2 linked regions of the Homo sapiens genome follow. The protein of the gene in region 2 purifies or fractionates together with the protein of the main gene of each other region. This does not show direct contact. Each region holds a gene or a part of one and is shown on either strand. Other genes may lie near its edges.

Region 1 (3,938 bases), on a different chromosome or scaffold from region 2:
GGTGCAAGGCAATTGGAACTCACCAGGGTGCTCTTTTGACTGTCAGCATATGCCAGGAAAGGAAGCAACAACCTGTTGTTAGATTTTTAAGCAATCAATTATCAGTTTTACCAGCTTATATTTAGAAATCTACAAAATAAAAATAGATATTCATGGTGTAGGAAGGACTGATACAGATTCTGACCTACCAAGCATACTTCCTAGGAATCTCATTCTTTTAGCATAAGTTATAAATACCAGGGATGGTTCTATCTAAATCAGGATGTCCAGTCTTTTGGCTTCCCTGGGCCACATTAGAAGAAGAATTGTCTTGGGCCACACATAAAATACACTAACACTAACAATAGCTGATGAGCTAAAAAAAAAAAAAAGGTGCAAAAAAATCTAGTGTTTTAAGAAAGTTTACAAATTTGTGTTGGGCCACATTCAAAGCTGTCCTGGGCCGCATGTGACCCACCGGCCGTGGGTTGGACAAACTTGAATTCTAAACATTAAAATTTGGTCAGATAATAGACTGTATGAAAATATATCACGTACTTAAAGTGCGGCGTCCGTAACATTTGGTTTTAAAGGCAACTTGAGTCATTACTAATTAATTATATCTCACATTATTATAATGACATATTTCAGAAACACAGTATTGCAACGCTCTGTAAAATGTGCAAATCATTTTAAGTAAAAAAATTAGGAACTTAAACTTATGGAAAATTTTGAATATATTCAAGAGAACAGACTTAGTATACTAAACTATCAGGTACTCATCCCTCAGTTTCAACATCTGCCAATTCATGGTCAATCTTATCTCGTTTATTCCCTATTTCTCTCCTCTCCTATATTATTTTGAAGCAAATCCTAGACATTACTTCATGGATAAATATTTCAATATATATTTCTAAAAGACAAAGACACTTTTAAAATAAAACCACAATACCTTATCATACCTTAAAAAAATTACAACAATCTGTAACATCATCAAAATATCTAGTCAATGTTGACATTTCCACTTGCCTCATAAATGCCATTTTTTTCATAGTTTATTTGAATTAGGATCTAAAATAAGGTCCACATGTTGTCTTTATTTGTTTGTTTTTTTTTTTTTTTAGATGGAGTCTTGCTCTGTCGCCCAGGCTGGAGTGCAGTGACACAATCTTGGCTCATGGCAACCTCCGCCTCCTGGGCTCAAGTGATTCTCCTACCTCCACTTCCTGAGTAGCTGGGATTACAGGTGCACACCACCACACCTGGTTAATTTTTGTGTTTTTAGTAGAGACGGGGTTTCACCATGTTGGCTAGGCTGGTATCAAACTCCTGACCTCAAGTGATCCGCCTGCCTCTGCCTCCCAAAGTGCTGGGATTACAGGCATGAGCCACCACGTCCAGCCACATATTGTCATTTTTTGATGTCTACAATGGTAACTTTTCTTTGTTAATTTAATAATCTGTTGCTTTCTCTGATTTCATTTATATGATTAATTATTTTGCAACTCTGGTGCACAGAATTAGGTAGGTTATCTTTGGTCATGATATACTCATATGGGTCTGTGCATACCCATTTTTAAATTTATTTTTGTGTGTGGTTGTTTGTTTTGAAATTGTAACAAGCCTCATGAACTCTCAATCTAACAGGAAAACTAAAACTTTGACGTGACATTTTCTGTACAGTTCTTCCCTATCCCACCTCGGTTTTCGCCCAGTGTGGTAACCACAGTCTTGAATCTTGTGTTCATTGTTGTTCTGCTTTTCTTTTTATGTAGTTTCCCTTCATCCAAATGTATCCCTTACAAAATTAAATTCTTCATTTTACTTTTTAACTTCCTTTAAAGTTTATCATGTTATACTTAAATTTCTAGTACTTCTTTTTGGCCTTGTATCTCTAAGAGTTACCCATATTGGATGTCATTGTGTGAATATACAAATTCATTCATCTACTCTCCTGTTTATAGGTATTTGGGTTGTTTCATTTGTTTCCAGGGTTTTGCAATTGTGAAAGGTGCTTTTCCCTATGATTTTAATTTTTAAAATATGTATTTCAACTTGTTTTTCATCAAGAAGAGCCTTCTGGAAATGTCACTCAGTGTACAGTGGGTATGATAACTATGCCTGTTATCCAGAGGGCACTCTACTAGCTGGTCTTGAATAAGTTATCTATAGTGCAACCAGTAGGAGCTTACTGATACAATATTTGAGGATTTTGCTGAGTATTTTAGCAAAAAGGGTAAAATATAACTCAGTTATCCCAGCAAGGAAATTCAGAGACTTTTTTCCTTTTAACTTAAAAGGCACGGGGGCTGGGCTTAGTGGCTCACGGCTATAATCCCAGCACTTTGGGAGGCCGAGGTGGGCGGATCAGGAGTTCGAAACCAGCCTGGCCAACATGGCAAAACCCTGTCTTTACTAAAAATACAAAAATTAGCTGGGCATAGTGGCATGTGTCTGTAATCCCAGCTACTCAGGGGCTGAGGGAGGAGAATCACTTGAACCTAAGAGGCAGAGGTTGCAGTGAGCCAAGATCACGCCACTGCACTCCAGCCTGGGGAACAGAGCAAGACTCTGTCTCTAAATACATAAATAAATAAATAAATAAATAAATAAAGGAATGGGTAAGTTGACTTGGAATTACTACACATTTTGATCTTATTTTGAGTTATTATTTGATATATTTGTGGAAAAGTAATTGCTTATAAACATGTATACCAATAAAAATTATGCCAATTAAAACTTCAATTGTAACCATTTTTGTTTTATTGTTTAGGAGACAAATGACCTGAAGCGTGCTGGACTCATGCTTCAAGAAGCAGATAAACTGGGCTGCAAACAGTTTGTTACTCCTGCAGATGTGGTTTCAGGCAATCCTAAACTTAATTTAGCTTTTGTAGCTAATTTGTTTAACACATACCCGTGCCTGCACAAGCCGAATAATAATGACATCGATATGAATTTACTGGAAGGTGCGTTCTTTCTGCCTTTAATTGACTTGCTATATTTATCTTCTTATGGTATTGTCTTACTTCACTGTCAGAGATAGGGGATTGTGGTGGGAAATGCAATTTAGTGTGTGTAGGTATGTGTATCTATTGAAAAATTAAAATTATGGAAGGTGGTTGCTGGTTTTGGTTAAAAGAGAATGCTGGGGTAAATCTTTTATTTCTCCATAAGAGGTTAGTGAAAACTATCATACATTTAAAATATTCTCATAAATGATCACATAACAGCTCTACCACCAACATGGACAATGAATTATCTATTAGAATAAAATAATTATTTGTAGGTGTTTTTCTCCTTTGAAAGGTCCAGTTTGACTCTAGTATTGTTCTCTTTTTAAGGTTTTTAGTGTACATGAAAAAAATTACAGTGTTCGTTATTTGTCTTTTGTGTGGTCTATCGTTATCTGTCTCATAATATATAATACTTTCCTGTTTTGCTTCATGAAATGCAGATTTGACCCCTCCTAATGTAGGTACTGTATTTAGTACTTTTCTATACTCTATAAATATATTCATTCTGAATGTTCTTTTTATTAGTACCATTTATTCTTTCCATCTGGGTTGATATTTTACTTTTTGCATTGTTCATGCTGTGTTATTTCTCTCTTAATATGCCCATAGAATGAAACACAAATAAAACTTAATTAGAATAGCAGAACAAAGCTTTGATTTTGTAAAATTTCTACCTAATTTGCCTTCTATAATGATGGGATATTGTAGTTGTAAACACATTAGAACTCAATTTTGAGAACTGGAATTCATGATTTGATGTAAAATCTTTATCCTTCTCCTGTGACAAAATGTCAAGTAATCTTTGAAAGGATTCATTTAGGTTCTATAACATATTATTTTGTATCAATTAGCTATGTTATATTTACTGAACCTCATTGAAGCTTACAGTATATGAATCATAATAACAAAACATTCTCAATACCCAGTTCTTACTCATTTGTT
Region 2 (4,276 bases):
TTACATAGCTATTTGATTCTAAATCAAGGTAGCTTTAACCAGTAGGAAAGTCCTTGATAATATGGATTCAGTTGATTTTTTAAATTTAATTTTTATCAAAGTTATGTTTAATACATGCATATATTTATAAGAGTTAAATAGCTCTGCAGAACTATAGTCACTTGTCACTTAATGATGAGGACCTATTCTGAGAAATGTATCATTAGACATCATTTGAACATGATACAGTGTGCTTGCACAAACCTAGATGGTTTAGCCTGCTACACACCTAGGCTATATGGCATTGCCTGTTGCTCCTAGGCTACAGCATGTTACTGTACTGAATACTGTAGGCAGTTGTAATACATCATAAGTCTTTGTGTGTTCAAACATACAGAAGGTACAGTAAAAATATGGTATTTGTAATCTTATGGGACCACTGTCATCTTTGTGATTGTTGACCAAAATGTCTTTATATGGCACATGACTATATTTACAAAAACAGTAGGTCTCTGCAAATTTCCCCTCATTTCAGGCTGCCTAGGGGCAACTGCTTTCAACTCATTCTTTTGATACTTACTTCCATATTTGAAACTGGCATTTTTTTTTTTTTTTTTTTTGAGACGGAGTCTCACTCTGTCACCCAGGCTGGAGTGCAGTGGTGCGATATCACCTCATTGCAACCTCTGCCTCCCGGGTTCAAGCGATTCTCCTGCCTCAGCCTCCTGAGTAGCTGAGACTACAGACGCGCGCCACCACACCTGGCTAATTTTTTGTATTTTTAGTAGAGATGGGGTTTCACAGTGTTAGCCAGGATGGTCTTGATCTCTTGACCTCGTGATACGCCTGCCTCGGCCTCCCAAAGTGCTGGGATTACAGGCGTGAGCCACCATGCCCAGCCGAAACTAGCGTTTTTATAGTGTTACTTCTTGATTTTTCAGTTTAAGATATTTTTCAGTTTAAGTAAAAATGAGGGTTTACCACTATCCCCAACCACACACAAGCACACATTTTAACCCTGCCCAGTACTCCCAATATTGTCATACTGCAAGTCGTTTGGATACATCCGCATTTCATAGAGATGGAGTTTCACTATTATTGCACAAGCTGGTCTTGAACTCCTGGGCTTAAGCAATCCTCCTGCCTCAGCCTCCCAAAGTACTAGGGCTATAGGCGTGAGCCACCATGCCCAGCCTGTATACATCAGTATTTCAGTTTATAATGACTCCATTTTCACCATGTTAGCTAGGCCAGAGTTAGTAATTTTTAACAATTTTGCTTTGCTTAGTTTTCTGTATACTTATTAAATTAGCCAAGTGGTTATCAATTGGGGCCCATTTTCTCTCCAGAGGACATTTGGCAATGTTGGGGGAGGGGAGGAGAGTGCGGGTGTGTGCTACTGACATCTAGTGGGTAGAAGCCAGGTATGCTGCCAAATATTCTTCTGCACTGCACAAGACAGCCTCCTGTAACAAAGAATTAGAAGGCCCACAATGTCAGTAGAGCTGTTGTTGAGAAACCCTGATTTAGCCCAAACTATCTCTCAAGTGTATAAATGGCTTATCTTCAAACCTACCAATTTTGACTTCGTGAGAAGCTCTTTCCCAGGGCCTTCTGACCTACTCCAGTTTGAACTTGTTAAAGCTAGAACTTTTGTGCAGCTGTTGTCTTGGACTTGCTTTACTGTCATCTTTATGATTCTCTCAGTTCTGTCTTGTTTTGGAGCCCCTGTTTCTGTATCTGGTATCTTTGGCTGTCTTTGTTTACTTTCTCATTTTGAAGGGCCACTTTCAATAGTTCTCTGGATGGGATAGAATTTTTTCAAGACTATACATGTCTGTAAATGTTTTTTCTCCCCTCTTGTTTTATGGATAGTTTGGCTGGGCAGAGAACTCTGAGTCAGAAATAATTTTTTCTCAGAATTTTGAAGGCATTGCTCTACTGTCTTCTATTTTTCTGTGTCGATGTTGAGATCAGATGCTTAGAACATCCTTTTCAACTATTTTGAAACTTTCTTTTTTTCTCTTTGCGAGCTAGAGAGAGAATCTTTGTCCCCAGAGTTCTGAAATTCTTGTATTATGTAGTTATATGTCTGTTTTTTTAATTCATTCTGCTAATCCTGTTCAATCTGGAATTTATCTCATAAATTCTGCAAATTTTCCTTAAATAATTTCTTTGATTTCCTCTCCTTCATTTTATCTCTCCTCTCTCTTTTGAATTCCTGTTGTTAGATGTTGGGCCTACTGATGGGTTTCTCTAATTTTCTTGTCTATTTTCATCTATTTTCCATTTCTTTACATTTTTTTTCTTTGCTTTCTGGGAGATTTTTCTCAACTTTGTCTTCCAGTTTTTCTACTAAGTTCTTATTTCTGCTATAATATGTATAGTTTCCATTCCTTTTTTTGAAAAAAAAATCCTATATTTGTTTTATGGATGCAGTGTCTTATCTCTCTTAGGAAATATTGGTAGTTTTTTTTTTTTTTGTCTGCATATTCTTTTTCTTCCAAATTTCCTTTTTCTGTTTGTTTGCTTTGGTCTTTATCTTTCATATTTGTTGCTTTCCTTAGATGTCTCATGATCCTTGGCAGTCTGTGCTTATTTAAGAGAGAGGCCCTAAGCTGAATGGAAGCTCTGCTTTTGTGTGATTATGGTTTTTTGTGTAGGATGGTAAATCTGGATGATTTCCTTGCAGACTCCCAGTCTTAGTCCATTTGGGCTGCAAAAACAAAATACCATAAACTGGGTGGCTTATAATCCACAGAAATTTATTTTTCACAGTTCCTGTGAGTGAGGCTGGGAAGTCCAAGATAAAGGTGCCGGCAGATTTGGTGTCTGGTAAAAGCCTGCTTTCTGGTTCACAGAGCAGCACCGTCTCGCTGTGTCCTCACATGGTGGAAGGAGACAAGGCAGCTCTCTGGGGCCTCTTTTACAAGGGCACTAATCTCATTTATGAGGGCCCTGCCTTCTTGATCCAGTCACCATCCAAAGATCCCACTTCCTAATATCATCATATTGGCAAGTAGGGTTCAACATGTGAATTTTGGGGTAAGGAGACATAGGCATTTAGACCAGGGCACCCAGTGACACATCTTTTCTTTTGTGCTGGATTGTTTTCCCAGACAAAATTTCTCATCTTTTGCCAGGAGAGAACAAGCTTGAGAGCTGAGTAGGAAAAGGGGATATGGGTCTCATCTTTAAGCATGCAGATTAACCTAATTCCCCAGTTTTCATTATGGCACCCTTCAAATTCAATTGAGCATGTTGTCCTCTAGTCTAGATATATCCTGTTATATGCTCTCTAGAGATTGTTTAGTCTTTTATCAGAAAGGGTTGAAGAGTAGAAGAGGAGGTCTGGGGATTTTCACTACTTCTTAGATTTTGGTCAGTTCTAGTTTGGACTCCACTCTCGTTCCCAAAGTGTCTGAAACTTCCAGTTCCTGAGCCCCTTAGTTTATTTTTTTGTTTGTTTGCTTTAATGTATTTACACAAGAATTGCGGAAAGAGTACAAAGTTTCCGTATACCCTTCATCCAGCTTCTTTTTATCTTAACATCTTATATAACCATAGAACGATGATCAGAAGAAATTAACCTTAGTATAATATTATTAACTACACTACAGAATTTATTCAGATTTTACCAGTTTTCCCTCTTATAGTTTTTGTTTGTTTCAAGATCCAAATTTAGGATACCACATTGCATTTGGTTATCATATCTCCTAGTTTCCTTTTATCTGTGATAATTTTTCAGTCTTCATTTTCAAGATCTTGACACTTTTGAAGAGTACTGGTCAGTTATTTCATGGAATGGCTCTCAATTTGGGTTTGTGGATGCTCTCTCATGAATAGATTGAGGTTATGAATAAAAAGAAGGATTATCACAGATGGGATGTGTTCTTCTTAGTGCATTATGTTGGTAGGGGGGCATGATGCTGATACGTACTACTGGTGATGTTAACCTTGATCACTTGGGTAAGAGGGTGTCTGCTAGGTTTCTCCACTGTGAAGTTACTATTTTTCCCTTTAATAATTATTAAGTACTTTGATTTAAAGTTACTCAGCCAGGCAGGTCAAACTTTAAAAATAAAATAGCTTTTAAAAATCAAATTCTTTGAGACCATGCAGATAACCTATTTCCCCCTAAATTTCTGCCCACTAATTTTATCATCTATCTGTGATCTTGCCTGCAGCAATTATTACTGTGGCTTAATAATAGTGATTTTCTATTTCTCTCATTATTTCTACATTTATTAATTTAAATTCTTCTGTGAGGAGAATTTGTCCTTCCCCCCACCCCCAT

The links. Proteins that work in one complex are often made in the same cells at the same time.
Region 1: the proteins of USP47 (region 2) and PLS1 purify together in Homo sapiens (affinity purification with mass spectrometry; 2 studies listed by BioGRID and IntAct, with this or other methods). This does not show direct contact.

Annotation. Positions count from the first base shown.
Region 1 is NC_000003.12:142,686,866-142,690,803, forward strand, and holds part of PLS1 (plastin-1), read left to right. Parts: intron 1-2,752; coding exon 2,753-2,948; intron 2,949-3,938. UniProt on the Homo sapiens protein: Actin-bundling protein. In the inner ear, it is required for stereocilia formation. Mediates liquid packing of actin filaments that is necessary for stereocilia to grow to their proper dimensions.
Region 2 is NC_000011.10:11,848,029-11,852,304, forward strand, and holds part of USP47 (ubiquitin carboxyl-terminal hydrolase 47), read left to right. Parts: intron 1-4,276. UniProt on the Homo sapiens protein: Ubiquitin-specific protease that specifically deubiquitinates monoubiquitinated DNA polymerase beta (POLB), stabilizing POLB thereby playing a role in base-excision repair (BER). Acts as a regulator of cell growth and genome integrity.